Regions from separate parts of the Homo sapiens genome. Here region 1 is linked to region 2. Evidence: fine-mapped expression QTL. A gene starts in region 2. The other region holds a variant in brackets. All regions are shown on one strand. Distances are between the middles of the regions. Region 1 has its middle 20 kb from the start of BETALINC1. Region 2 holds the start of LINC01727 (long intergenic non-protein coding RNA 1727).

Region 1 (15,844 bases), 20 kb after region 2:
CTGCAACTTGGGAGAAAGCTCTGTTTAAAAATGTGGGGCCATGCAGCAAGCTCTGCAAGGTCGGAGCTGAGTATGGCAGGTGTGGCCAAGAGCAGCGGCGCCACTGGGGGATGACAGAGGCTGCAAAGCATGCCCCCCGCCCACCTCCATGAGGAGCCCCACCTCAGCCCTGTGCCCGCTTGTGTCCTTGGGCCAGCCCAGGGAAGGGTATGAGCTCATCACTGCTGCTGGGTGTGATACAGCGACTGCTTATAAACAACAATCGGGGTGGATGAGGGGTGGAGAACACGAGGCTGAAAATGAGTAAACCTGGTTTCTATTTCTGGTTCTTCCAACAACCAGTTCTGAGACCTTGAGCAAATCATGCCCCTATAACGGGCCTCAGTTTTCTTCTGTGTAAAATGAAGAGAGATAGAATTAAGTAAGCTCTCCAGTCCCTCTGCCATCCCTTAAAAAGCTATCATTCCGTCACGCCTCCAAGGAGTGTCTCTCTCTGCAAAGTAGTCACTTTAGAAAGCCATGGTACATGGTACAGTTCACTGGAATTGTTCAAAACATGTCAAGGCTTAGAACACATGCTTTTGGTTATCTCCAAAGGTGAGGAGCTCCCAAATCTGGGGACGGATTATATTTTGGAATTTCGATGTTTATGAACCATATGGGGATCAACCTGGAAAAAGCTTGATCCAAAACCAGGTATAAAGCAGTGCTTCCAAAACGTGGTCTGAGGACAGCCTGTGTCAGGGGCACTCGGGTGCTTGTTACAAAGCAAATGTGCAACAGACCCAGATTGAGGGACCTTCTACAAAATAACTGACCAGTACTCTTCAAGATTGCCAAGGTCATGAAAGGCTAAGAAAGACGGAGGAACCATCACAGATGGGAGGACACTACAGAGACATGACTGTGAATGCAATGTGGGGTCCTGGCTTCCACCTGAGAACAGGAAAAGGACATAGCAGAAGAGCTGAGGGAATCCAGATAAAACCTGGAGTTCAGTCACTAGTATTGCATCCATGGTAAGTTCCTGGTTTTGACCATTGCACTATGATTGCATAAAACAATAACAGTGGGGTGAGCTGGGTGAGGAATAAACAGAACTCTCTGTACTGTTTTTGCAACCCCTCTGTAAGTCTAAAATTACTACAAGATACAAAGGATTTACAAAACAGAAATATATATTGCTGCAGCCACTGTTACAATTACTACTAAAAGATAACACTCGTTGAAGGTTTACAATCCACCAGGAGAAAGAGTAGATGTGGGTCACCTCCCTACCACCACCATCCTGTTGAATCCAATTTCCTGGACTTGGAACTCAGAACCTTCCTTTTCACACATTCTCCAGGGGATTCTAACACAAGCTAAAGTTTAGGAGCACAAGCAGTAAAATAGTAAAAACTTTGTGTGTGAGTGTGTGTGTCTGTGTGTGTGTGTGTGAGAGAGAGAGAGAGAGAGAGATCCGAAGATAAGACAGGGGAAATATTAACATCAGTCAGATTAAGCTGGCGGGTACATGGGTATCGATCATTTCTGTTTGGGTAAAATATGAAATCCTTTTTTAAATTAAAAAATTTAAATTAATAAATTTTCTGAACTGATTTGGCCTCTCAACTTTTCCAGCCTTCAGCTCATCATGTGCACTCAAGCTGCAGGCCTGAGAAACACGTCTGGGAGTCGTCATCACAGGGGAAAGGAAAGGGCATGAGGACAGTCTTGAGTGTTGCCCTGTATCCTGGCTCAAGACTCAGAAGGATCAGCAAAGAGAAGGAAGGCAGGAAGGAAGGAAGGAAGGAAGGAAGGAAGGAAGGAAGGGAGGGAGGGAGGGAGGGAGGGAGGAAGGAAGGAAACAGGGATAAGAAAACAAGGCTGAGGAAGTCAAACAGAACTGAGAAATATGATTTTCTTGTTGGGTTGAAAACACAGTGTTTTGTGTAGATATATGTATGGGTGTATGGGTCTACCCAAAGGTTCTGCTTCTTTGTGGATAGACAAACTTTTTGTGGCTTTATGTCCTGTGCCTAATGTCAAAAGCCATCCTAATTTGTTCCAACTCTGGGCCCCGAGGGCCAGGGGTGAGTGACACAGGAGGGGAGTTTTCACAATTTGTTTTGTTCTGAATTGGCAGTCAGTTCCAACGAGAGGCAGAAAGGAATAAGATGAAGACTCACAAAAACTCAAATGTCATCTTCTTTTACTCCCTCTGTCTCTTAAACTCAACTCTGTAATCATGGGGAGAGCCAAACATTGCACATTGCCATCCTTTCAGCAAGCTCGTTCACTCTGAAAATGTCAGCTCAAGGTCAAAATCACTTCTGAGTCCTCAAAGACTCAATCCCAAAAGGCCGGTCTTCTAAGAGCAGGAGATCCCGAGTAGAAAGAAAAGACCACCCAGCCTCCCCTCTAAGTGCACAGTCCAGCTCCTGGACCACCTGCCCTGGTGGCCCACCAAGTCCCCGGGCTGCCTGCACTGGATCAGTGCCAGGGCGTTGGAACAAGTCCTCCTTTGAACAAAAAGACGCCTAACAGTACCATTGAACAGACACACTGCTAGGATCCCTGCACCCACTTCCTGTGAAAATTACTAGGATGTTTACATCAAAATCACAACAGCATTTAACTGGAGAGAAGGGGCAGAAAAAACAAATACGATGGTTCAATTGTCTTTTATTCTGCATTTCTTGCATTTCAGAACCAGAGAAAGTGGAGAGGAAAAGAAGAAGCACTTCTATATGCAGCTTAAACTTTAAAGATCATATTATTCAAGACACAGCTTTATTGGGGGAAAAAATAGGGATAAAACAAAGCCAGATGAACTTAATGCGAATGGGATGCTTTTATGGAATCACCAACGTTTCCATTGTTCAGCCTGAATTGCCCATATTTTTGTATTCACTGCAGACAATGAGTTCTTGTGACATTCTGGCATATATTATACTGGGGGAAGAAAACCCAACCTGCTTTATTTGTTCCATTTTCTGCTTTTAGATGTAATGGAAATGTTAACATGCTTAACATCCGTGGCCTCTCTTCCAGCCTCGCTTCACTTTTCGTAGTTATCATGAGTCTTAGTGAGGGTACGCGGTGCTTCCAGACAAGAGGTGGTGCATGCTAATGTAAGCTCAAAGCCAGCCTGCTCTATATCCTTCACCGTGCAAACTCTCCCTCTCATTCTTTTAAAGACTTTCACGGCATATAGTCTCCATTATGATTAAAATGATCTCAACTGTCCTTCAGAAAAGAATGTAAGGCTTTTGACTACGTGAACCAGTTCAAGGAAAATCTCCCAGGAGTCCAGGACATGAAGATCACATTGTCGAACCTCTTTTATAAGCATTCAATTCCACCTGGTTTTATAGCTGCCTCACTCCCCTCTCTGGATGGGTTTCTCTTACATTAATTGATAACACTATGTCTAATTTGAAGTTCACGCCAAAGGTGGGAGTTATATAAATAAACGATTTCAGCTTCATGAGAGTAGGAGAAGGCAAAAGTGCTCTCATATTTTTAAATCCTCTACAGGACTAGAATGACCATTCCATCTCAGTTGCCTGCTTTTCCAAAAAGGTGTGCATAAATTTCTTTCTTTAAAAAAATGTGTGCGGACGGGCTTGGTGGCTCAAGCCTATAATCCCTCAGGTGGATCTCCTGAGGTCAGGAGTTCTAGATCAGCCTGACCAACGTGGTGAAACCCTGTCTCTACTAAAAATACAAAAATTAGCTGGGTGTGGTGGTGGGTGCCGGTAATCTCAGCTACTCGGGAGGCTGAGGCTGGAGAATTGCTTGACCCCAGGAGACAGAGGTTGCAGTGAGCCAAGATTGCACCACTGCACTCCAGCCCGAGTGACAGAGTGAGACTCCATTTCAAAAAAAAAAAAAAAAAAGTGAACTGTTCAAACTCTACACATTTTTTTTTTTTGGAGACAGGATTACCCAGGCTAGAATGCAGTGGTACAATCACAGCTCCTGGGCTCAAGCAATCCTCCCACCTCAGCCTCCTGAGTAGGTGGGACAGGTGCATGCCGCCATGCCCAGCCAATTTCTTGTATTTTTTTTTATAGAGATGAGGTCTCACTATGTTGCCCAGGCTAGTCTTGAACTCCTGAGCTCAAGCAATCCTTCCACCTCAGTCTCTCAAAGTGCTGGGATTACAGGTGTGAGCCACTGTGCCCAGCCCACATTTTTTTAAAAGGGGAATTTTCACCTGGTAATAGATATTTTCCTGTATGGTTACCCTTTGGGCCTGTCTTTACTATTTCCATACTGTCACAAATCCCACCACCAACTCCCTGCAAAAACAGGGAGAGAACCTATTATACGGAGAAAGATAGAGATTTGGCTGCCGAAAAGCTCCAAGTAAGTGGAAGGACACTTCCCAGCCCACCAAACCCTCCTCAGATGAATCAGGAGAGGCCTCCTGGTCTCCTTTGGGGACCTGAGAGGGATGGAGGGGGAGGACCGTGAGGAAGGCTCTGCAGCTCAGTTCCATGAGGTTTTCCCAGGTGGGTTCATCTTAGGCTGGGTCCCCAGCATAATGCTGGCACCTCCATGAACATAGAAGCCTCATAAGGCCCCAAAGGGGGCTGCAAGAGTAAACAGAATATGATTCAGCCTTAAAAAGGAAGGAAATTCTGACACATGCTACAACACGCATGAACCTTGAACACATTAGTGAAATAAGCCCATGACAAAAGGACAAATCCTGTAGGATCCCACTTATATGAGGTACCTAGAGTGGCCACATTCATAGAGACAGAGCCTCCATTCATATCATGGAGTTTGCCAGGGGCTGCATGGACCAGGGAATGGGGAGTGATTGTTTAATGCATACAGAGTTTCCATTCTGGAGGATGAAAGGTTCTGGAGATGGACGGTGGCGATGGTTGCACAATATGGATGTGCTTAGTGACACTGGACTGTACCCTTAGTAATGGTTAAGATGGGAAATTTTATATGTATTCTACCAAACACACAAAAAAAATTTTTCAAGCAACCAGGAGTAGCAGACAGCCACTAGACAGTGTTTTCACTGGTACTTCCCAAGGCATCTGAATTTCCAACCATGACCATTTGTTCCTGTGGGGTGGCCCATAGATCCAGCTTCAGAAGTCACCCACACCTTTATAGGAGCCAGAGCCTGGAAAATGCCACCTCTGTGGATGAGGCTGGATAGTGCTGTCTGCCCCACCACGGTCTCTCTCAGCCCTCGATGGCCCCTCCAAGACTCCAAGGGAGACCCTCCTTCCTAGATGTCACTTCAAGCTTCTCTCTAGACCTGCCAAAGCCCACAGCTTCCTTCTCATCCACTCATGAGAATCATGATCCAGCAAGTAGAAGAAAGAGACAGGACAATATTCTTTTTTGCTTGGTTTTGCTGTGGGCGCTTTATACAAAACACTAATTTAATATGATTATAATAGTAAAATACATTAAGCACATTTTTTAAAAATCCAGTTGCATTAACAACAAAATAAATGAAAATTAAAATAATAAACCAGGACAGCACAAAAATTTCAAATGATGCCCTGTGTTGTCAAAAGGGCAGAAAAACCAACACTTCTCATAAACTATGAAAGAGTAAGCTCTTCCTGGAAATCAATTTGGTTAATACACATAAAAAATCTTTAAAATTTGCACTTACTTTAACCCAATAACTTTATCTTTTAAATTATTTTATTTTATTTTACTCTAAGTTCTGGGATACATGTGCTGAACATGCAGGTTTGTTACATAGGTATACATGTGCCATGGTGGTTTGCTGCACCCATCAACCCATCATCTAGGTTTTAAGCCCTGCATGCATTACATATTTGTCCTAATGCTCTCCCTCCCCTTGCCCTCACCCCCTGACAGGCCCCGGTGTGTGATGTTCCCCTCCCTGTGTCCATGTGTTCTCATTGTTCAACTCTCACTTATGAGTGAGAACACGTGGTGTTTGGTTTTCTGTTCCTGTGTTAGTTTGCTGAGGATGATGGTTTCCAGCTTCATCCATGTCCCTGCAAAGGACATGAATTCATTTTTTTATGGCTGCATAGTATTCCATGTAAACCCAATAATTTTAAAGAAATAACTTATAGGGGCTCGGCGTGGTGGATCCTGCCTATAATCCCAGCACTTTAGGAGGCCAAGGCGGGTAAATGGCTTGAGCCCAGGAGTTTGAGACAAGCCTGGGCAACATGGCACAACCACATCTACAAAAAATGCAAAAATTAGCTTGGCATGGTTGCATGCCCCTACTGTAGTCCAGCTACTTGCGGGTGCTGAGAGAAGAGAATCACTTGAGCCCAGGAGGTTGAGGCTTCGGTGAGCTATGATTGTGCCACTGCACTCCAGCCTGGGTGACAGAATAAGACCCTGTCACAGAAAAAAAAAAAAAAAAGAAAGAAAGAAAAGAAAAAGAAAGAAAGAACTTGTAGGAATTTACAGTGAGAAAATTATCAATGGATTTATATCTCTGCCACCAAGCACAGTGCATGGCACACAGAGGTGCTCAGTAAATGTTTGCACAATGAATATTATTTACAAATAATATAAATTTTATATATGTAACTTACAACTTCTAATAGCTGTGTTAGAAGTTGAAAATGGTTTGCAAAGGAGGAACATCTACTATCTTTACTTAGCAAATATTATTTATCCAAAGAAAAGCAGCTGCATGATGCATCACAGTTTTGTTTTCTTGTGTTGTTTTTTGAGACAGGGTCTCTCAGTGTTGCCTGGGTTGGCCTCAAACTCCTGGACTCAAGCAATCCTCCAGCCTCAGTCTCCCACGTAGCTGAGTACATCACAGTTTTCAAAGCAGTTTCATATGCATCACTTCCTTGGCCCTCACAGCAACAATGAGGATATTACCAGCCCATTTTATAGATGAGGAAACTAAGGCCTCGGAGAGATTAAGTAAATTGTGAAAGACATTTGAAAATGAAGAGTCCTTGAAACAACGTGTTCTTTCAGTCCAAGCTCCCCAGCTTCCCGACAGCCCGGGTGGTAGGTTTTCTCCACCTCTTCCTTAAGTCAGTTCCAGCTCTCCAGATTAAACTAGCAAGCACCTAATTTCCATTCTGACTCCCAGCCATTGTCTCTTCTTTGCTTCTTGTGGAAATGATGTAGGAGTTGCTCCCTTGAGCACTCACTGTAGCTTTAGATGTGCTTCCTCTCTGCAGCATGAGCTACTCGGCCTTACTATTCCCCGTACTTAATTTGAGAATATTTGTTCAATTTGAGTGTGTTTTTGACCTGCCAGGTATCTGTGAAACAAAATAACTCCTACTGATAGCTTCTTATCAAGAGTAATTTAAAACATCCATCATCTACTGCTGAATGTCAAAATAAAGGTTGAGAGAAATTCCTGTTTCCCTAAATATGTTTTCTTTTCACTCTTGTCAGCATCATTGTCAATCCTGAAATTATAGTGTGCCATGGAAGACCTCAGAAATTGAGGCTTCAGAAACTGTTACAATGAGAACATACAAATCAGCCCGTGGTTCCCAAAGGCCCTGGACATAGTCGCCCCGGCAGAGGAGCCTGGGACCAACCTGTGCCAGGATCCGGAAACAAAATGAGCACCCTGGAGAGGCAACTGTCCCTCCTTGTAATCCTGGGTGGAAGTTTATAGTATTCAATTAGTTATTCCAGAGCCTTGTTGGTGTGCAGACTATTTTCTACCGCCCTCCTGACAATGATTAAGCAGAAGGAGGGAGAAAAGGACAAATCTATATTAATAGCCCCCTCTATTTAAACAACCCTGTGATTTTCATCATGTGGAGGCTGGAGATTGTGTTTTTTCAGTTCTTTCTGTCACCAACTCAGCTACTGGATGTACCTGGGTACACACCTGCCAACAGAGACCCAGCAAGAGATGGAGGCTGGAGGGAGAGGCATGAGCTTAAAGCACCAGCCATAACAGAGAACTTACAGAAAGATAATGTCATTCAGTGTTATCTGGTAGAAAACTCCAATGTTCCTAAGATCCAGCTAAGAAGTGCTCCCATTCTCCATTCCCAAGGTTCACCCCTGGAACAGTCTGGAATTGTCTTTAGAGGAAAAGAATTCAATCACTTCAGAAAATCAGCAAATATATATTAAGCACAAACAAAATTCAAGGTATGGTATACCTGCAAATAGATTGAGATATGAGAATTTTCCCATCTTTAAGGGATTTATCATTGTAAAGGAAGTTATTAGAAGTAGGACCTGGGACGTGGATGGTAGGCATAGGCTGGCTGTTCAGAGGCCTATGCACAAGCATTCCCTGCCACAAGGGTGGAGCTCCATTTCCAGCTTGTGACTGCTGGAGAGACAGTGGTGTGTGGAGTTGGGGGGCATTATATGGATGTGTGCCCCTTTAAGAAGGTTTTGATGGGCGGGGCGTGGTAGCTCACACTTGTAATCCCAGCACTTTGGGAGGCCAAGGAGGGTAGATCACTTGAGGTCAGGAGTTCAAGACCAGCCTGGCAGACATGGTGAAACCCCGTCTCTACTAAAAATAAAAAAACTAGCCGGGCATGGTGGCAGGCGCCTGTAATCCCAGCTACTCGGGAGGCTGAGGCAGGACAATTGCTTGAACCCAGCAGGTAGAGGTTGCAGTGAGCAGAGATCACACCACTGCACTCCAGCCTGGGTGACAAAGTGAGAATCTGTCTAAAAAAAAAAAAAAGAAGGTTTTAATGACTAACTTCAGTAGCCTTGTTACCTGCCTGAGCAAGCCCACTCCAAAAATACCCTCTTGTCCCCCAGCCACTTTGCAGCTAGCAGTGGTCATAGGGTAGGGTTCTGGTTTGGGCCAGCGAGATGTCTGCTGGGAGAGGCTTCCAGAAAAGCTTTGCATTCCAGATGAACACACAGACTCAGCTGGTACATTTGTTTGCCATTTAGTGTGCTCCACCCTTCTCCCCCTTCTCCCTACCTGGAAAAGAATTGTGAGGCCTCCAGGGACAGGGGACGGTAGCCATTTAGCCACCACAAGGCAACATGAATCATTCATATTCCAAAGCCCTAGGGATGT[A/G]GAATTGAAACAGAAGTGTCCTCTACCCAACCTCGACTACCTACTCAAGACTTCCTGTTATGCAGAAGGAAAAAAGTCCCTGTTAATATCTTCCGTAGCAGTCAGGTGTTTTGTGGTTTGCAGCCGACTTCACCACTAACAGAGATACCAACACGCTTAAGTTATGCGACCAATAGACACAGAAGATGAAAGTCGTTGCAAGAAATTTCCATTGTCTTGATCTTGAACTGACTTCATCAAGAATATTACCTATCTCTTCAGCTGTGAAACTTCTGACCAATGGAAGAGGATTTGCAGATTCTCAGGGCAAAACCAGATGAAATGGTTGGCAACTGTAAGGTTTTTATTTTATTGCAGGTGGCATTTAAGGCCCTCAGCTGAGTGGGTGCCTACGCGGCAACGTAGTTAAAACAAATGGCATAAAGCAGGTCTTCTGGTCACTGTGGAGTGGCTTACTAACTCAACTGCTCCAACCAACAGGCTGCATTTGGGCTTTTCTAAGACAGGAACCCTATCTTCTCCAGATATTATTTACTTTCCTTTACTTTCCTCCTTTTTTTTTTTTTTTTTTTTTTTTTGAGACGGAGTCTCACTCTGTCGCCAGGCTGGAGTGCAGTGGCGTGATCTCGGCTCACTGCACCCTCCACCTCCCGGGTTCAAGCGATTCTCCTGCCTCAGCCTCCATAGTAGCTGGGACTGTAGGTGTGTGCCACCACACCCAGCTAATTTTTGTATTTTTAGTAGAGACAGGGTTTCTCCATGTTGGCCAGGATGGTCTGGATCTCTTGACCTTATGATCCACCCACCTCGGCCTCCCAAAGTGCTTAGATTACAGGCGTGAGCCACTGCTCCCGGTCTTACTTTCTTCTTTCAAAGGGTCTCCTGATTCTGTTCTCACTGGGAAGCAAGGCTTCCAGAACTAAAGGCACAGAAGTAGACCATGGCTGGGAACCGTACTCTGGGATAAGACCTCTGAATGAATGCACTACTTTTTTTTTTTTTTTTTTTTTTTTGCCCTTGATCAAGTTTTTTTTCATTTTTAAATTTTTAACTGTGCTTAAAAAAAACATAAAAATTTACCATTTTAACCATTTTTAAGTGTACGGTTTGTAGGGTTAAGTATATCTACATTATTGTGCAGATCTCCAGAGGTCTTTCATCTTGCAAAGCTGAAACTTTGTGCCCCCTGAACAACAGCTCCCCATTCTCCCTCCCCAGCCCCTGGCAACCATCATTCTACCTTCTGTTTTTATGAATTCGTCATTCTAGGTAGCTCGTATAAGCAGAGTCATACAGTATTTGTCTTTTAGTAACTGATGTATTTCACTTAGCATAATGTCCTCAAGGTTCATCTATGTTGCAGCATGCGACAGAATTTCGTTTCTTCTTTAGGCTGAATCATATTTCATTGTACGTGTCTATATACCACACTTCTTTATCCATTCATCTGTTGGTAAACATTTGGGTTTGCTTCCTTGATCATGTTTTTATTTCTTTTATCTCCCAATCATCAATCCCTCCTGAAAATATCATTTAGAGTGCCTTCACTTGGATAAAAACTATTGGTTTCCATCTATTATTTCTACTTGAGCGTAATCATTCAAAAGGGAAAAGCCTAGGTGTTTGAATGTTCAGGATTATATTGTAGCCATCACAGGCCAAAAATAGGATGTATATAGAGGTAAGAATACCATGAATAGCAGCTATGAACATTCTAAAGAAATTATCCACAGACCACCAAAAAATTAATCCAACATTTCAAGATGGTATTTGAGACAATCCCTAGACTATTCTCTGCCCTGTTCTGTGAGGTTAAATGCATGCTTTACAATAAATGGAAGGTTTTTAAAAACATAGCTGTAATGTCCTGCAGCTCCCCCCATCAAAAAGTTAATTCTATTTCCCCATCCCTCAAGTCAGCTGGCTTTGAGCCACAGAACGTGACATGGTCCAGAGCTTAGGCTGCAAGGGAACTTACAACCTTCACCTTTGCCCCTTGGAACACCCTTTGATGATGTTGAAAGCTACTCTGTAAGGAAGTGGGTGAAATCTCCTGGAGGGCAAGGGCCACGTGGAGAGCCTACCCCAACTGACAGTTCCAAGTGCCAGCACTGAGTGAGGCCATGTAAACCTTCCAGTCCCACCCGCTTCAAGCTAAATACAACCGCAGAGGAAAGCCCTGGAGAAGCCAACAAAGGAAACACCCAGCCAATCCACACCACCACAAGAAGTAATAAACCTCTGCTGTTTTAAGTCACTATGTTTTGGGGGTGGATTCTTATGCAGCAACAGTTGACTGATACTCTGTGTAGGCACTAAGTTATCTCAGGGCCCATATTCCATTCTTAAGTTGTTTGTTTGTTTTGCTGAGTAAACAACAATTTAAAAAAAAAGGACAAATAGGAAAAAAAAACCTTTAATTCTACCAAGAACTATTAACTGATGTTAATGTTTTATTATTAATATCCTTTCTTCTGTACATAATTTATTTTTACTTTCATTGAGATATAAGCCACCCAAAAAAACTGTTTGTTTTTTTAGAAACTAACATGTGCTTGAGGCAATTTGTTCAATCAACTAATATTTACTGAGCATAATTTTAAAAAATCAGAATTAAGTTGTCCCAGTTACAAGCTTTGGAATCTGACAACCTGGATCCATTGAATCACTGCACTTACCGGAACCTGAACAACTTATCTGGCTGAGTCTCAGTTTCCTTATCTGTAAAAGGGGGGATAATATTACCTGACTTGCAGAATTGCAATGAAACGATAAATGTGATTGTGCAGGGAAGGCATGGAGCTGAGCCCCTGGAACAGAAAAGGCATGTGATAAAGAACATCTTCCACACCACGGAGAATACTCCAGGGGAGAAAGGCCAGCCCCAGCAATCATACAGAGCATCTCAGTCAGGCCACCCTGAGCTGAATTCTTAGAGTAACAGGGGATTTACTGCCTGCAGGCGTCTCTGGACAGCTATGTCTGCTCAGAAGTTTTTCCTAATACAAAGTTAAAATCTATTCTGCTCTAATTTTCAGTGATCTATCATCATTATTTCAACCCTCACATCTAAATAAAGCATGGAGATAATAAATTATCTCCCACATGGAAGCCTTTTCCAGCACTTTCCAATAGAACTTCCGGTGACGATGGAAATATTCCACATCTGTGCCTCCAGTATTAGGCACCTGCGGCAATTGATCATTGGGAATGTGACTACTACAACTAAGAAACTGAATTTTTATTTTATTGTATTTTAATTAGCTTTAAATAGTCCCATATGGCTAGTGGCTTTCAGATTGGTCATAAGTGTTGGACATAAAAAAAGCAACAAGAGTCCCCTCTCTTTTATTCACTAAATCAAACATCGTCCGTTCCTTTACATATCATCTATATGTGATCATCTGAGTCCTTCACATCCCAGTTCTGTCCTCAGGGATTCACTCTAATTTTCCACATCCCCATGAAAGGGTAACATCAGAACTGAACCCCTCTGCAGGTATCCCACGAAGGAATACCAAATTCTGATTAATAGAAACAGAGCAGCATCCCCGGGGCTAGCCTCGTATCCTTCATTTCTGTATTCCTAGCATCCACCCCAGGAGATAGCTCATTCATAATTGATGAGTGGATGAATACATTTTCTCAGCAGGGTGGAATACAGTGGAACTCTCACTTCCTTTGTTCCAGATATGAATTTCCATGACCGGAATCTAAGAACACATTCTCTCTTTTTTTAAGTTAATTTGGTGGGGGGAGACATCTTGACCTATATTGACCTTACTGTCAACTAAAGCCCCTCTTTTCCATGTCATCTCTCCTCCAACCTTGTGCTGTTGGGTATGGCTTTCCAAATGCAAGCCTTTACATTTAACTCTGTGATATGGTTTGGATATTTGTCCCTGCCAAAATCTCATGTTGAATTATAATCCCAGTACTGGAGGCAGGGCCTGGGAGGAGGTGATTGGACGATGGATTAGCACCATCCCCTTGTTGCTGTTCTCACGATAGTGAGTGAGTTCTCCCGAGATCTTGTTGTTCAGCAGTGTGTGGCACCTCCCTCCTACTCTCTCTCTTGCCCCTGCTCTCACCATGTGAAGTGCCTTATCCCCCTTTGCCTTCTGCCATGATTGTAAGCCTCCTGAGGCCTCCCTAGAAGCCAAGCAGATGCCATCACCATGCTTCCTGTAAAGCCTGCAGAACTGTGGGCCAATTAAACCTTTTATGTATACGTTACCCAGTCTATAATTGCTCATTATAAAATATATCAATGCAAGAACAGCCTAACACACTCTGAATATCTTTTTCTCTGATGTCCCACTTATGATGACCATGAGGACTCTGATTCACATGGCCACAAGTATCTATGGGCCTCCATGCCAACTGGAGATGGCTGCCCCTCTGGCTGGACAGCTCATGGCTTGACCATGGATAGCCATCTCTCTGGGAAGATTTGGAAAAAGCACTCACTCTGCTGGGGAACAGCCATGCAGGTTTGCTGAGCAAATCCCATGTCTGTGAGAATAAACAGTTATCCCTATTCTGAATGGACGCCCAGGTCCTAGACAGCTGGGCTTGGGAATAGGAGCAGGGGCTGAGTTCTGGCTCCCTCCCCACTGCCCTCCTGTTCCAATCCATCAGATAGTCCATCCAGTATAGATGGTCTCTGATATATGATCATTGGACTTAAGACTTTTCAACTTTACAATGGGTTTGCTGGGGGGTAGCCCCATGATAAGGGGGGAAGCATGTATACATTGCTTCCTAATTTAACTCTCTTATCTTCTATAATAGCACTATGCAAACTATCTGAGGGTAAGAACCAGGGTTTTCTAAATTTTTTATCATCCTCAGATTCACACTTTTGTAAAATACAACAAAAATAAATTATCAGAAAAATAAAATTTTAAAAATATAAGCCCAAACTTTATTTTTAGGTTAATCAGAGGGAACATACATTTCAGTAAATATAATCAAAACTAACATAATGAGGAAAAAAACAATTGTAAAAACTGGACATGCTCCTTTGAGAAGATGTGTATAGGCAATTATCGTATACAATTGCAATTACACTCTAAGCTTTTTGCTGCTCAGCAGTTACAATTGTGGGACAGTTAATCTGGGCAATACCTCCTTTAACAGTCCTCCCCTGGGAGGTGGATGTGTCCCCTCCCGTTGAATCTGGACAGGTTCTGTGACCACATTGACCAATGAAATGTGGGAGAAGTCATGCTTTACCACTTTCTGGAGCTGAACCTCAAGAGGCTGGGAATTTCTACTTCCTTTCTCTTGGAACCCTACAACATCAAGTAGAAAATCTAGTGACCTTGTTGGAGGGACCACAAAGAGAAACCCTGATTCTATCTGGGGTACAGCCCAGTCTTCCAGCCATCCCCTCCAAGGCTCCAGGCAGGTGAGCAAAAATGTCTTAGACCCTCCAGACCAGAGTAGCCACTGGCTGAATAATACCCAGGGATCCCAGCCAATGCCAGGTAAAGCAGAATTGCCTGTTGAGCCATGTCTGAAATCCTAACATAAAAAATCACTAGATATAATAAAATGGGCCAGGCATGGTGGCTCACGCCTGTAATCTCAGCACTTTGCGGGGCCAAGGTGGGAGGATCACTTGAGCCCAGGCATTCAAGACTAGCCTGGGCAACATAGCAAGACCCTGTCTCTACAAAAAATACAAAAATTAACCAGGCATGGTGGCATGTACTTGTAGTTCCAGTTACTCAGGAGGCTGAGGTCGGAGGATTGCTTGAGCCCAGGAGGTTGAGGCTGCAGTGAGCCATAAGCCATGATTGCACCACTGCACTCTAGCTAGGGTAACAGACTGAGACCCTGTATCAAAAAAAAAAAAGATAATAAAATGGTTCTTGTATTTAAGCCATTAAGTCTTGAGGGTAGTTTGTTCTATAGCAATGCATAACCAAAAAGAGAACTAAAGAAAAATATGTAAAGTTTTTAATACAGCAAACGAGCCTTCTTCTCGCTTGTTAACATATATAACCCAGATTGGATTGACAACAGTTCTGCTCACAGGGCATAATATACAGCTAAACCATTTCTAGTTTGGCTTGAATAACACTCACAGTAGAGAAACCTGTTGACAAAGGTACCTTTTTAGGAACTTCTTTAAACAATTTCAATAAATTTATAATATTCACTTTAAATTTTTATTCCAATTGAAGTAAGACTATTTTCAAAATTCATCTTCAACTCTTCATCAGAGGCCAGTTACAAAACTTTATCTTGTAAAGTTACAGGATATAGCAAAGATGATGAGACGCTTCTTCCATGATTAGATTACATAAGGCTGTGACTCCGTTTTGCTAGTAGACTCTTTTCCTTGTCAGTTCTGATGAAGCAAATTGCCATGTTGAGGAGGCCCACATGGTGAGAACTGTGAGTGGCCTCCAGCCAATAGCCAGCTAGGAGCTGGAGCCATCAATTCAACAATCCAGAAGGAACTGAATCCTACTGTGTGCCAGGATGTGGAAGCTCCCCTGGTAGAACCTTCAGATGAGACCCCAGCCCCGGTCTGCACTTTGATTCAGCTGTGTGAGAAACCCTAGAACAGATAATCCAGCTAGGCCATGCCTGAATCCCCAACCTTCAAAAACTGTGAACAGGCTGGGCATGGTGGCTCACGCCTGTAATTCCAGCACTTTGGGAGGCTGAGGAGTGAGGATTGCTTGAGACCAGAAGTTCAAGACCAGCCTGAGCAACAACGAAATACCCTCCCTATCTTTACAAAAAAAAATTAGCTGGATGTGGTGACACATGCCTGTACTACCAGCTACTTGGGAGGCTGAGGCAGGAGGATTGTTTGAGCCC
Region 2 (15,844 bases):
TCCCCTTCCTACCTATGCCAGGCCCTGTTTTGCTGTGTCTGGAACCCAGTGCAGAGCCCACCTCCCCGTGACTGGTGTTCCCTCCTTCCATGGATGGAGTCTGAAGAACCAGGTCTTTGCACCTACAGGAAGCCCCCAGATCAGAGCTGCCAGGGAAGTTCTGTGTCTGCAGAAGGGAGAGGCGCAGGAGTGAATAGATTGTTTTTTATGTCTTCAGGCTTTTTCAGCTTTCTCTTTTTAAAAGAGACTAACTCTGCATATAAAATGCATTATCTCTGTATACCTGCTAGCAAACAGCCTTCCTTAAACAAATCAACCTATCCAGGGCTAGAGTATACAGCTGCCCAGCCTGGGAACTGCACAATCCCAGGGAGGAAGAATGCTTTTCACATCAGAGTTTATATGCAGCACAGAGTCCTGACAGAGTGGGATATACTGTGAAGCTACATCTTCCATTGCATAATGTTCTCCTTTGGGAACGTGAATCTAAGTATCTGCCTTCCCCACCCAAGTCAGTGGGAAGTGGTTTCATTGGCCACCAGATTTCACAGATAATAAAATGGGAGTGTTTTCCCTTTCCTCCAGAAATACTTTTTATCACCAAGTCACCACCTTACTCCAACGTTTCTGGAACTCACTACTGTTTTTGTTGGTTTCCAAGCAGCAGCTGGAGACCTCCCTGGACCAACCAGCAGCTGGATGCAAACCCAACTCAGGTTAGAGCTTAACTCCAGCAAGCACAGCGCTGCCTCCTACAAGCCCCCACATAGCATTTGCCTCCAAAACTAGTTAGGCAGGATCCCATAGGCCTCCCTGTAACAATATCTCCATAGGAAGGAAGGAAGGAAGGAAGGAAGGAAGGAAGGAAGGAAGGAAGGAAGGAAGGAAGGAAGGAAGGAAGGAAGGAAGGAAGGTATCTGCCCCAAAGCTGTTCTTGACCTTTTTTTGAGTGACTTCACTTTATTTTAAGCTTTATGCAGAAAGTGCAATTGTATTAATATTTGTATCTTGCTATTTCATATTCACTGCAATTCAATGTGTAAAAGCTGCCACAGTGACACTAAGTGGTAAAGAGTTAGTGGTCTTCCCATCCACTAAGTGCATGGAACCAGAACAGAGCAGGGGCCTGAGCCCCACCGCCTGAGGCCAAGTTTCCATCCTTCTATGGACTTCTCTTCTCCCGTTTTTCTCATCATTAAAAGAGAGAGTGACCATGCCTATTTAAGAGGAAGGTTATAGAGATTAAGTGACATTATTCAACCTGTCTCAAGGGGCCACTGGGGAAAGTTTTCTATCTGTAATAATGGTGTTTCAGTAACCTCACAAGCTAAGAAAACCATCAATGTGGACAGATGAATCCTGAATTCATAAACAGCACCTTCCAGGTAGCAGGAAGGCAGGTGAAAGCTAGCTTCCCTCCAGGAACTCTTTGCTCATCCCACCTCTTTAATTAAATTCTTGGGCCAAGTGTAGTGGCTCAGGCCTATAACCCTAACACTTTGGGATACCAAGGCAGGAGGATCTCCTGAGGCTAAGAGTTTGGGACCAGCCTGGGCAACATAGTGAAGCCCCTGTCTTTACAAAATATTTTTTAAATTAACTAGGCAACTTAGGAGGCTGAGGCAGGAGGATTGCTTGAGCCCAGGCATTCGAGGCTGCAGTAAGCTATGATGGCACCACTGCACTCCAGCCTGGAAAATGCCTGAGCTATCTAGGTTATTAACCACCAACCAAAGGCTGAAATCCAATAGGTCTTTAGTTCTCTTTCTTTATTTCCCTCCAAAATGTGATGCAGCTTTTTCCCTGGGGCGCTGGAAGAAGCTAGGGCAGACAGATAACAGCAGTTGAAGGTGGAGATGCTGAAAAGCATGCTTGGCGTGGATGGAAATTTGGCCTCAGGCAGTGGGAATCAGGGAAGACCATTAACTCTTTACCACTTAGTGTCCCTGTGGTAACTTTTACATATTAAATTGCAGTGAATATGAAATAGCAAGATACAAATATTGATAAGATTGTACTTTCTTCATAAAACTTAAAATAACATTAAATCACTCCAAAAATTGTCAAGAACAGCTTTGGGCAGATTGCATTTTCTCTTTCTTCTTCTGTTAATTTTGCATGTTAATTTTCTTCTTAACTGTTTAACATGTGCTGCTATTTGATGATACAATTTTCAAGAGCAATGAGAGGCTGGGAAATGTTTCCTGGTGTGGCCACCACCTAGGAAGACAGTTGGTGCCACAAGAGCTTGTGTAGGGGAAGTTCATGGGCCCGAGGGTTGACCTGCTGGAGCGGGCAGCCGTGCACCCATGCCGGACTCAAGGAGGGCATCACACATGGAGGGGGCAACACAGGCCAGGATGTAAAGCTGGAAAAGTGCAGGGCATGTCCGGGGGCGTCCAGCTCAAGTGGCTGTTTGAGAATTGCTTGTGCTATCGGACGGAGAGGTCACGCACATTGGACGCGAGAGGATCGTGGGTCACAGTCTGGGAACCAGAGCACCAGAGCCCAAGGAGGGAGGACCACAACACCCAGGCCCCTTACCACGCTTATTCCAGCAAGGTAAAGTCCCTCTGGAATGGCTCATGCACCCGGCTTGTGGACAGGAGTGGGATGGCGTGGCTGAGACGGAGATAGGAGGGAAGCAAGGGGAATGGGAAGACAGCTGCCTTGGAGGCCACTCCCAAAGGAAGGAGAGCAGGATGAGAAAACCCCAAATCCACGTAATGCCCTAAAGTGCACTGGGGTCAGCTAAGGCGATGCAGATTGAGGAAGAGGCTCCGAGTCAGTAAGACCAGCACCTAAAATTCCTCTAAAGAAAGGCACTAAAACTCCAGGGCCCCTCATCAGTGTTTGAAAAGATATTTGGCTGCACTTATACTTTAACATGTCCCATAACGTGCCCTGAGATACCATTTTTCACTTATCCAGTTGGCAAATAACATAACGCTCAGTGACTCCGGTGCTGGTAGAGGTGAAGCAGAACACACAAGGGTACAAACTGGCAAGGCTTCCACAGACGGCAACTTGCAGTTCTTTTTAAAAAACCCTCTGAGACAGGAATTCCACTACCAGGACTGTATCCTACATGTGTCCCCACACATGCACATAATGACAGTTGTACAAGGCTACTCATTGTGGCACTGTTGTCATAGCAAAGATTGGAACCAACCAAGATGTCCTTCAGGTGCGGACTGCTTAAATAAATAACACCTCATCCACATAATGGAATGCCAGGCAGAGAGAATGAAGAAATCTGTTTCTTCCTAATGACATAATCTCCCATTATTTAATGAAGAAAAGGGGCAGGCTATGTATGTCAGGTACAATTATTGGTGGTTTTTGAAGGGAAAATGAGAAAGAGAAAGAAACTTTTTTTTTTCTTTTTGCTTATGCATGTACTATCTGTGGAAGGATACAGAAGACGCTGATTACTTTAGTTGGCTCTGCTGGGGAGAACGGAGCGGCTGGAAGACAGAAGAATAAGGAAGATGAGATCTAACACCTTTCTGTTGTTGTCGAATTTTGAACCAGATAGAAGTTTTATCTATTTTCTAAATAAATACAAAAACAAAAACCCCAGGCCCTGAATACAGCTTTAGGTGAAAACGGTGTTCCCAATTCCCACTCCTCACCCATACCCAGCCTCCTATCTCCCTCTCAGCCACGCCATCCCACACTTCCCACTCCTCATCCATATCCAGCCTCCTATCTCCCTCTCAGCCACGCCATCCCACACTTCCCACTCCTCATCCATACCCAGCCTCCTATCTCCCTCTCAGCCACGCCATCCCACTCCTGTCCAGCCTTTTCCTTCCATTCCAATTTTATAAAACTTCCCTTCACCTCACTCCTTTGGCGGGATGATTTTTAACACTTCACAGTTTTACAAGCTTTTGCATTTCAGATTTGAGTCTCTGACTTAAATGAAAAGCTGGAAGTGTTTCTTATAGAAAAACTCACATATATGTACAAAGTATTCTTGCAATGGAAGAAAAATGAAAGGCATCTAAATGTCCATCTGTAGGGGAGAAAAATCAAACAAATCAGATTATTTCCACACTGCACAACAGCATGCAGCGGTAAAACAGTCAGATCACTTTGTGTTTAAAAACCTCAGGCCGGGTGTGTGGCTCACACCTGTAATTCAAGCACTTTGGGAGGCCAAGACAGGAGGATTGCTTGAACCCAGTAGTTCAAGACTAGCCTGAGCATCGCAGGGAGATCCTGTCTCTACAAAAAATTAGCCAGGCATGGCAACTTGCACCTGTAGTCCTAGCTACTTCGGAGGCTCAGGTGGGGGGATCCCTTGAGCCCAGGAGTTCGGGGCTGCAGTGAACTGTGCCATTGCACTCCAGCCTGGGCAACAGAGCAAGACCCTGTCTCAAAAATAAATAAATAAAAATAAAAATAAACCTTATACAATATATTTTCAGACTTTATATAGTACATAAAAATATATTATCAATATAAGCATAAACTTTATATAAACATATTGTATAAAGCATAGAATTAAATGTATTATATTTTTATATATTTATATAAAGTTTTAAAATATTTTTACATTTGTAAATATAAAATATATACACATATATGCCATACAAAATATATTTTATGCTTATTTATAAGTCATACACTTCATATGTGCACATGTAATGTATATTTCTACATGTCTACATCTCTGTGTAACATATAGAAACGAATATATAATATACATATATATCATTTGTAAATGCATAGGAAAGGAATGTAAATGTTCTCTAGGGGTGTAGTAAGATCGGGATGATAAAAGGAAATGCAGGAAAGCTTGAGATTGTTACTGTATGAACCTGCATGGGCTTGTGTGATGTTTTTAAACAATAAAAATTATTAACCATCTTTTGGTGCCTGGCATGACAAGTATCTGCCACTAGAGGGCACTGGAGATCGCTAAATATTTCCCAGGATTATCTTTGAGGGAGGGGGCGCGGGTGCAGGGGATTTGAAGGAAGCCCCTTTACCTCTTTATAAGGGTCCCTTTTTCACGCTGGGGGACTGGGCCCTGAACCTGAACTTTCAGTGAGGGTAAAGCTTGGCTGGAAGCCCGCAACCCTTCTCTCTCCACTCCCTCAAATAGGCCCCTGCAGCCATTTGGGGTGGGAGTCCTTTATCCAGCCCACCCCATTTTGCCCACCAGTTTCGCCCACCAGCCCTGGTCTGCGGGACGCTGCTCCGGTGTGGAAGGTGGAACTGGCATCGAGTGCATTTCAGTGAGCTCACCTTCACTCCTTATTCCACATGGGTGTTCAACGGGGAGCCCTGAGACATTGGAAGGGGCCGTTTGTGATTGCTCAATTATAGTGGAGACATCTTCGCATTTGGGGGAGGAAGAGGGAAGCTAGAATTTCTGAAATGCTCAAAATTCAGCCTGAAATGCATGTCGGTGAACAACCAGTTGCTAATTACCTACCCTAGGCCCTAACTCTCTGACACGTAATCATAGAGCATTATCGCCTGGTTTAGTATGAGCGGAATATGCAGGAACCCAGAGTCAGTCAACGTGTGTTGTTGTGCCTAGAAATTTACTGAGCGTTTTTCACCAGTATGGAAAACCACGGCACCATGACGCCAAGCCGGTAGTGTCTGAGTCACTGGTCCTGTGCTCCAGGCTTGGCCTGGCTCTGGGGTTGTCGGGATCACATTCTTACAAGACAAACACCTGGATACTTTATTACGTCTTCTAGAGAGCTTGTGCCCAAGCATTTACCTATCGAATATGTGTGTGTGTGTGTGTGTGTGTGTGTGTGTGTGTGTTTACCAAAAGTTACCTTTTTCAACTTCTCTTTTGTTTCTCCTTTATATTACAGAAAGAACTTTTTGTAATGATGCATGTAAGTAGATTATACAATCTGTGAATTTCATTTCAAGATAGGACAGGAAGCGTTACAAAATATTCGTGGTCTCCAAAGTGATTCTGACACCTCATGATGACTAAGACCTTTGGTTGCCGTTGCCTCAAATAATTTCCTCCTAGAGCAGCAGTTCTTCACCTCGGCTACACATTGAACTATGTGGGAAGCTATTAAAAATACAGATGCCTGAACCCCACAGCCTTCATTATCTTGTGAGCATCTGGGCCAAGTTCAGTGCTGGTGCTCTTGTTCAGATGGATGTAGCTGGTGGTGCAGAGATCCATGAGCTTGCTTTTATGGGACTTTCTGCTGTTGTTGATCTGGGATGCAGTCAGGATACTAGGGCTTTTTTAAAGCTCCCCAGTTGACTCTAATGCAGCCAAATTTGAGAACCATTCTCTGCTCAATACCTTCAAAAATGGAAAACTAACAACCTCTCACTCAGTGCCACCCCAGGTATGACGTGCAGAACAGCAGCATCAGCATACCTGGGAGCTTGTTAGAAATTCAGAGTTTAGGATCTATCTCAGACCAGCTAAATCCAGATCTTGGGAAGTGGGGCCCAGGTACTTGTATTCCACTCCACGCCTCCACAACATTGGCTTACTTTTAATTTAGCTTTAAATTACAATTTTAAAATGGAATTAACCAGAAGGCAAGGGTATACGGGAAATTTTTTTTAACACTTCTCATGTAAACTCAAGTCTTTTATTCCTTTTTCAGGGGTAAAGCAGGCTTTTCCATTTACAAGGTTATTCATGAGTTGCAAAAATTCCCTCCCTTCCTCCATGCTTTTGTAATTCCTACATTCCGCCATTTAGTCTTGGTGGCCACAATCAAACAGAAATCATGAGGGCCCTTTCCTCTTGCATCCGTAGTGGCAACCTTTGCAGCAGACAGTAACTGCTCCAGATCTGTCAAATAAACGCAAGTATCTGTATTTCTAAATCACCTCTCAGTAATACTTTTGCATACTGGAGTTTTCACTTTGGCATGCCCTAATCCTTACACAAGCACGAATTCCTCTAAATCCCAGCCTGAATTTGTTTAACTTACCAGAGAAGGCTTGCCCATTGAAGATTGGTTCTTCAGCCACTGCTTTTCATTCTCATACCAAACAAGTGCATTTTTAAGAACTCGCGAGAGTCTTGCTACTCTTCAACAGAGAAAGTCATCTCCAAATTAATCCACAGTCAGGAGCACCTCGTGCTGCTTTTATATATCATTAAAGTCCTGTAAAAGCAAGCTCACGGATCTCTGCACCACCAGCTAAATCTATCTGAACGAGAGCACCAGCCCTGAACTTGGCCCAGATGCTCACAAGATGATGAAGGGCACCCCTCCTCCAGCCTGTTCTTGTCCTCTCTCCCAGGGAGGCTTAGTCCTTTGGCACAAAAGCAGTGGTGGCCATTCATTCCTTGCCCTAGTGAAGCCAACTTCCTCCACATTCATTCTGCCCATCAGCATCTGATGCCCCCACAATGGCAAACACTGCAGGGGACCAAAGTCTGACTCCAAAAGGAGGCAGAATGCCAGGTCTTCTGCAGTGATGCCCTCGAATGGCCATCTCTCACTGCCTGGGATTAGCCTACATTGAGATCAATGATTAGCAGGTAACTTGTGAAGCCGACTCCTAAAAGTCCCATTCCTCCATCTTAGCTCATTTGGGAAAACAGTTTTTCCAACACTTCTTACGTAAATTCAAATGTTAGATTCTTTTTTTGGATTTCACAAATAGGACTAATAATTGATCCACTCATGTAAATATGAATACAGTGAATTGCATATAGTAGGCACTGGATTATTTGTTAAAGTGTTGAATTAGGCCAGACACAGTGGCTCGCACCTGTAATCCCAGCACTTTGGGAGGCCAAGGAGGGCAGATCACTTGAGGTCAGGAATTCAAAACCAGCTTGGCCAACATGGCGAAACACTGTCTCTACTAAAAATAGAAAAAAAAAAAATCGCTAGGCGTGGTGGTGGCACACATCTGTAATTCCAGCTACTAGGGAGACTGAGGCATGAGAATCTCTTGAACCCAGGAGGCAGAGGTTGCAGTGAGCCGAGATCGCACCACTGCACTCCAGCCTGGGTGACAGACTCAGACTCTATCTCAAAAAAGAAAAAATGTTGAATTAATACATGTATGTGAATACACTATATGTATGTGTACATGTGCATCTATCTATATAGCTGTATCTCCATCTGTATGTTCATTGATCTATGTGTCTGTATATCTACAGATAGACTGCCCCACCTGACCCAACAACCAGTCCAATAAATGAGCCCTTATTCTGCACTGCCAACCAGACTTCACAGCATTCCTAACATGTTTCACTGAGTCCTCACACAAAGCCAAGAAATAGGTATTATTCCTGAGGTCTCATAAAACCATCTGAGAAATGTGTAGCAGAGAATCAAAGCCATGTATGGCAAAAAATAAAAAATTAAAAAAAAAAGGCACTGGTGCAAAGATTTCCAGAAGTACTGGAGGAGCCATGGGCCACCTGAGAACTATGGACTTCACAAGATCAGATGCAAGGGAGAGAAATTACCTGGTGTAGGGGAGGATTAGACCTTGGCCACCTGGATTCAGTTTCCAGTTTGCCAGGGCCTCAGCAAATTCTTCCTTTTGTGCACCTGTTTCCTGGTAAACTTCCTGCAGAAGCAGAGAAGCTGGTAGGGCTTGGAGGAAACTGAAAAACAGGGACAATGAAAACAGTCCTTTGTATGACACATTTGGCCCTTGTCAAGAAATACAAACGGGGAACCTAGCTTAGGAAAAGCAAGACGTCTTCATTCATTTCCTCAAGGAAGTGGCCCTTGCCTATGACTGCTACGAGTCAGTTTCCAAAAAGCTCAATATTAAGCTCTGATTGCTCCCTAGCAGAAATGGCTGCTTTCATTTATTCTTGCCCATCTGGCACAAAAGCAATATGCAGAGCTCAAAAGAGGTACGCAGAGGTGGCCCGGTAAACACTGGCCTCCATTTCATTTCAGTGGGGGTGGGTCATGGTTCTGCGGGAACAAACGCTGAATCCTTGCTCCGGGTGCATGAAAGGCCGCATCCAATTTTGCCTCCCGTTGCTTTCCCAGTATCCAGCATGCCTGGCCCCACAATAGATGCTCAATAAACACTTGAGTGAATAAATTATTAACATATAATCATGAACGTTGTTACCAAATATTAAACACCTTTTATAGACCAAGCTCAGGGCAAATTGATTTACATATCATTGTTTCATTTACTCCTCCTGACATCTGAAGGAGGTAGAGGGACCATGGTAGATAAGGACGTTGAGAGGTCAGAGGAGTAAAGAGATTGGCACAGGATTGCACAGCCTGTCCTCAGCGCCAAAATTCATACAGAGACAGTCTGACTCCAAAGCCTGTTTTGAGGAAGGTTTTGTCATGTAATTTTGTAATGTATTATGTAGTTTTTATAAAATTGTAATTTATGTGATTTTTATCTATTTGTCATTTTAAATTTTTTAATTATGTGGTTGCAATTTTACATGATTATAACTTATTACAATTGAAATTTTATGTAATTGTGTAAATTTTAATGTAATTTGGAAGATGGCCCTTTTTAGGTAATGAAGTTGCATATGTATAAATTTCACAAAATATTTAAGTGAGAAATAACTCCAATCTTTTAGACTGTCTTTCAGAAAATGGAAGAAAGTATATTCTTCAACTCATTTTTGAGACTAGTGTAGACTTGAAACCTTAATTCGTAGTGGAAGGGAGATGACAGATGAATATCATGTATGACCGTAGATGCAAAAATTCTAAACAACAGAAAAAGTCAGTCTGAATCCAGGGATATGAAATAGAAGGATACTTCATTACTAAATTTAGTTTATCTCAAAGACACAAAGCTGACTTAATGTTAAAAAAATCAATCAATATAATTCATCACACTGAGAATATAAAGCAAAAACGTGATTGTTTCACAGATCCAAAAATCAAGTATAAGGTGTAACATTCATTTATTATTTAAAATAAATACTATCAACAAACTAGAAAAAGAAGGGGACTTATTAATGTGATATTGTTTACCTACAATAAATCTTCAGCAAACATCTAACTTAATAATGAAATATTAAATACTTTCCTCTGGAAATCATGATGAGGACAAAGATGCCCATAATAACCACTTCCCTTCAACATTTAGAGTAGAGGTTTCAGCCAATAGAGTAAGACAAGAAAAATATACTAAAATGCACAAAGATTTAAAAAGGAAAGAGCAAAAGTATTCTTATTTTGAAGATAATGATTGAATACATAGAAAACTGACAGAATAAGATATTAGAAACTGTGAGTTTTACAAGGCTACTCATTACACAACAATCGACTACATTTCTCTGTGTTAGTAACAAATGGCTAGAATATTAATTTAAAAGAAAAATATATCATTTACATTTGTGTTGAAAGGAATATCAAGTACCTAGGAATAAATCTAACAAAACATTTCGAGACCTCTATGCAGAAAACTGTAAATTTTTATTAAGGAAGACCTAAATAAATGAGAAGCAACACCATATTCATGCACTGAAGGGCTCAATGTCATAAAAATACCAATCCTACATGAACTTGGTGTATAGATTTACTGATCCCAACTGAAATCCCAACAAGCAGATTCTAAAATGTATATGGAAATGAAAAGACCAAAAGTGGTTAAGCTATTCCTGAAGAACAAAGAAGAGAGTGGATTTGCTCTGCCCAGTATCAACTTAAAATAACACTACATTAATTAAAGCAGCCTAGTGTTTGTACAAGGACAGATAATAGATTAATGGAATAGGATAGAGTGTTCTTAAAGAGATCCAGATATATATGGACACTTGATTTATGGCAAAGATAAAATTGAAGGAGGATAGAGAAAAAACTATTTTAAAAATGTATGTGGCTGGGACAATTGAGTATCCACAAGGAAAACATGAAATGAGGCCCCTACCTCAAACCATATACAAAATTCAATTCCAGGTGGAGTATATGTGAAAACCAAGTTGAAAAGACCAAGAAAAAAAAGCTTTTAGAAGGTTAAAGAAAACTGATAAATTCGAGTACATTAAATATAAGAATTTTGTTAATCGAAAGACAACATTAAGAGAGCGAGAAGGCAAGCCACAGAGTGGGAGAAAATATTAGGGGAACATAAAACTGACAGAGAGCTCAAACTACATAAAGAATGTCTATAAATCAGTAAGGAATAAACAAAACATAGAAAAATGGGCCCCCAAAACCCTGATATGCGTTTCAAAAAAGGGAATCCAAATAGCCAACAGACATATGAAGGATGCCCAACCCTGTTAGTAACCAAGGAAAGGTAACTAACATAGTGTTCCTATTAGCCCAGATCTGGAACAACTCCAATGTTCATGAACTGTAGAATGGATAAATAAATGGAGGCATAGTCATACAATACAATACCATACAAACAATAAAAATAAATAAACTTCCCAGGCACGGTGGCTCATGCCTGAGTAGCTGGGATTACAGGTGTGCACCACCACGCCTGGCTAATTTTGTATTTTTAGTAGAGAAGGGATTTCACCATGTTGGTCAGGCTGGTCTTGAACTCCTGACTTCAAGTGATCCACCCACCTCAGCCTCCCAAAGTGCTGGGATTACAGGCATGAGCCACTGTGCCTGGCCTATTTCCACCTTCTTAATGTAAGGATTTTTGAGATTCATGAGCAGCCCTCATCAAATACCTGTGGATTCTTTTAGCAGTGGGATTTATGTGTTGTAGAAAAAACAGTAATAGCTAATATCAAGCCCTCTTCTAAGTGCTTTAATTGTTTTAATTCATTTAATCCTCATAACCACCTTGCGAGTCAGTGATCTACCAAGGGCAGGTCACTGGGGCATTGTCTGTAGAAAAGTTAACAATAATAGTAATCCTGATAAAACTTTTCTGCTTTTTATTATCATGGTCCAGCAATTCTTAAAGAGATCAGGAATAAAATCCTCCTCTCTAGAAAAAAAATATTTTGTTGATCAAAGGTCTAAATAATTCATGATGATTACTGATAAGTTATAATCTTATATAAATAAATGTAAGTTTCAAAATAGCATCTTTTTATTACAGATCCTTTAATAAACATTGCATCCTATTCAGAAGTTAATTCAGAGAATTCTCAGTTCTACAGCCGGCACCTGACTCATGTGGACTCAGGCTGTTTCAAAAGTGGGTTTCTATGGCTGTGTTGTCTGAGCTGCCTTTCCTTCAGGTGCAATCACAAGACAAGCCCTGGGATGCTGCAGATTCACCATGAATGGTGGATTCCAAATAAAAAATGATAGCAGGATGCCTAGAGAGGTGAAGATGCAAACTTTGAGTTATTTCAGTTCTGTCTCCATGGGACCACGTGGAGTTTTTATTTGTGTTTAAAATTCCAAATGACAAAACAGAATGCAAACTATGAGATGACTAATTTAATATGAAACGGGCAAAATTGAGTTCGGATCTGAAAAAACGGTACCGCATTTGAATAGTATCTTTAAAATTAAAATGTAAACCAGACGTTCCCCTTCCCCCTCGTAGCGCTCTGGCTCTGCAGGAGCCTCTGCACGGAGCAGAGAGCCTGGACATTGCACTCCTGATGCCCCTGGACGCACACCCGCGGGCACTGTCCCAGACCTCATGGGGCACAGGCAGTACTTGCCTACCGGGCAGTGTTTTGTGCCAGTGAACTCAAGGGGAAGTAACTTAAATAAACACTGACCATGGCTAAAATGTCTCGGTGTGAGAACAGGAGGTCAGAGTCCAACAGGGCACATGGTGAAGTGCAGCCGGCCGGAAACCTGGGGCAGAGCCTGGGTCTATTTTCTGGCACTCAGCCCTGGAAAGACTCCATTAGACCAGAGTCCCTGAGGGACAAGCACCCTGTCCTTCTTACACATTATCCCCTGCCATTCGCACAGGTGTTTCCCCCCAGATCATCTCATTCCACAGGTTCCCCTCTATTGACCCCGCCACCTCCCACCCATCCAGCTCCCCAAGCTTGAAATGCTGGTCTTCAGCATCTCCACACTAAAACAGTCGCTCTCTCCTCAAAGTCGCTTGAGTCTCTTATTTCCTTCCTTTTTTTTCCCAGTGGGAATACCCAGGAAAGGCCTCCACTGCCTGCCATCTGGGCTCTCCAGCCCCTTTCTTGGGTTCCCAATGTCATCTCTGCCCTGAGCCTCTCCTGCATTTCACACTTCGTTTAGTCACACGTCTGCTTCAGGGGCTGACTTCCTGCCTGAATTAAGCCAAATCCAAAACTTTTCTGGATTCAGTCAACTCCTGCATACTCTCTCCATCATGTACCCTCAGTCCTAGCCAGCTCGCCAATGTCATTTCTTCCTCTTTTCCACCTGAGATCCTTCCTCCACATAGACTTTCACAATTCTCCACAAAACTGAGCCCATCAAAAGCAACAGATATTCTGGTGGGTCGGGCACCGTGGCTCATGCCTGTAATCCCGGCACTTTGTGAGGCTGAGGCAGGTGGATCACTTGATATCAGGAGTTCGAGACCAGCATGGCCAACATGGTGAAACCCCATCTTTACTAAAAATACAAAAATTAGCTGGGCATGTTGGCGTGCACCTGTAGTCCCAGCTATTCAGGAGGCTGAGGCAGGAGGATTGCTTGAACCCAGGAGGCTGAGGTTGCAGTGAGCTGAGATCGTGCCACTGTACTCCAGCCTGGGCAACAGAGTGAAACCCCGTCTCCAGAAAAAAAGAAAAGAAAAAAAAGCAACAGACATTCTGTAATCCTATTCTAACCATCCCACTGCCTGTTTGTATTTTTGGTTTTTGTGCTTGTCTTTAATGGCTGCCTTCACCCCACTCATCATCTCCACTGAAGCCACCACCTGTTTCTCTGTTTGGGGTTTAAAGGTGTCTGAGATCTTTCCCATCATGCAAATAAAGAGAGATTTCATGGCTTCTCCAAGCTATCACCGAACTTGGCTTTCAACTGCAAGTCTTCTGGATTCAAATCCAGTGTTCCTGCCCCTACACCAGGGATACTTAATAGCATACAAGGTAACTTTAGCTGGTACTCAGAAGAAATTTTAATCAGTTCTATATTGATTTTAATGTGTATTAAAAAAACTAAAAACCGTCACATCCTCAGCTCAAGTTGCCATCTCCCAAGTCTAGTAATAGCTCTTTTAATGCACCACCATTCTCAACAGAAAAACTGTCCACAGTCTTATTTACTGCCATTTCATAAGTGAGAAGTAGCAGAGAACAAGAGTCTGTTTAAGCTAGTGGTTCTGTCAACCTTGGCTGCCATGAGAATTATTTGGAGAAACATTTTTTTAAAACACCAGTGACTGGATCCCCGTCCCCTCCCTGCCGTGGTAAAATTGGTTGGGAGTAGAGTCTAGATGGTGTAATATACCCCAGGTGATTCAAATTGAAATCACGGTCGAGAGCCTCTGGTTTACATCAGTGACTGCACAGCTGGGCCTGATAATTGCATTTCTTTTTCTTGTTCCTTTTTTTTTTTTCTTAGAGATAATGTCTCACTCTGTCTCCCAGGCTAGAGTGTAATGGCACAATCATGGCTCACTCCAGCCTCGAACACCTGGGCTCAAAAAATCCTCCTGCCTCAGCCTCCCAAGTAGCTGGGACCACAGATGCAGGCCACCACACCAGCTAATTTTAAAAATTTTTGTAGAGATGGGGTCTTGTTATGTTGCCCAGGCTGGTCTCAAACTTCTGGCCTCAAGCTATCTTCCTACCTTGGCCTCCCAAACTGTTGGGATTACAGGCGTGAGCCACCACACCCAGCCATGAATCGCATTTCTAAAAGCTCCCGTGTGATGTTGATGCTTCCCCTTAGATTCAGGGAACACACTTTGATCACCACTGATGCAGATGAATCTGGGAGGACCACTGTGGGTTTTTTCCTTCCCAGCATACTTTTGTTCTCTAGTAATAGCTCCTGACAACATGCTTTGGAGAGCCATGCCTCCTCAACTCTTAGGTGTAGGTGATACCTCACCACTTCAGGAGCAGAAACCAGACTCAAGTCTGGCCAATCCACAGAATCTGTGTCTGCTCCAGTGAGTAATGGGTTCAGTGATGGGTGCATAATATAGTCCAGTGAGAGTCAGTGCTGAGACTTTTGCTGAAACCCTTGAGAAAAGGTGCTAAGTTGGCAAGACATAGGCCTGGAGCTGCTGGTGACTGTTTTACCTTTGCCTGAGAGGAACCTGCCTGAGGATGGAGCAGGCAGGTGAAAGCAAAAGAGACTGTGAGACGAAGTAGATGGCACCCTTTTATTCCCTGGATCCAGCCAAACCTGAATCCAGACATACATTTTTCAGTGGCATGAGCTAATAAGTTTCCTTTCTTGCTCAAGCCAGTTTGAGGTGGGTTTTTGTCAAGTGCAGTTCAGAAAGTGCTGATACATGAAACATCACAGTGCACCCGCCACCCCACAGAGGGGGATTCCAGCCTCTCTTCTGGAGGCTGCCTCCATCAGGCAACCATCTTCAAAAAGGCCCCAGGATGGAGCAACAGAACCCTTAGATGTCAGTCAGTGTCATCACCTCCCTGCTTATATGGGAAGACTGGGGGACAAAGAGGGGTAAGGAATTGCCCCAAGTTGTGCCTTCGACAGAGCCAGATAGGATATCAGCCCTTGGCTCTATCAGTAGGCACACCCACGCCAGGGGGCGGGTGAGAGCCAGCAGGGAGCGCCACCCTGGTCTCCTTCACAAGGACACCCACTGTAGGGAGGGGATCTCACTACTTCATGAAAAGTGGCTTTATTATTGCCCACTTCTCAATGTCTCCGTGTTTCTAATTGCAATCTAAAAAACACACCCTTTTTTTTTTTTTTGAGACAGGGTCTCACTCTGTCTCCCAGGCTGGAGTGCAGTGGCGCAATTCAGCTCACTGCAAGCTCCGCCTCCCAGGTTCAAGCGATTCTCCTGCCTCAGC

Evidence for each region. PIP is the estimated chance that this variant, and not a neighbour inherited with it, causes the effect.
Region 1: its variant is the best candidate, but not a certain one, in a credible set for the expression of LINC01727 in whole blood (TOPMed, PIP 0.77).

Annotation. Positions count from the first base shown.
Region 1 is chr20:21,541,797-21,557,640 of GRCh38, reverse strand. No RefSeq gene overlaps it. Among named protein-coding and RNA genes, the nearest start is that of BETALINC1, 20 kb to the right of the region's middle. The variant A/G (reference allele first, on the strand shown) is at 9,005.
Region 2 is chr20:21,561,352-21,577,195 of GRCh38, reverse strand. It overlaps LINC01727 (long intergenic non-protein coding RNA 1727), which reads right to left and starts at 7,172. Exons shown (of 4, transcript NR_109880.1): 1 at 6,948-7,172. RefSeq lists an enhancer at 2,444-2,944.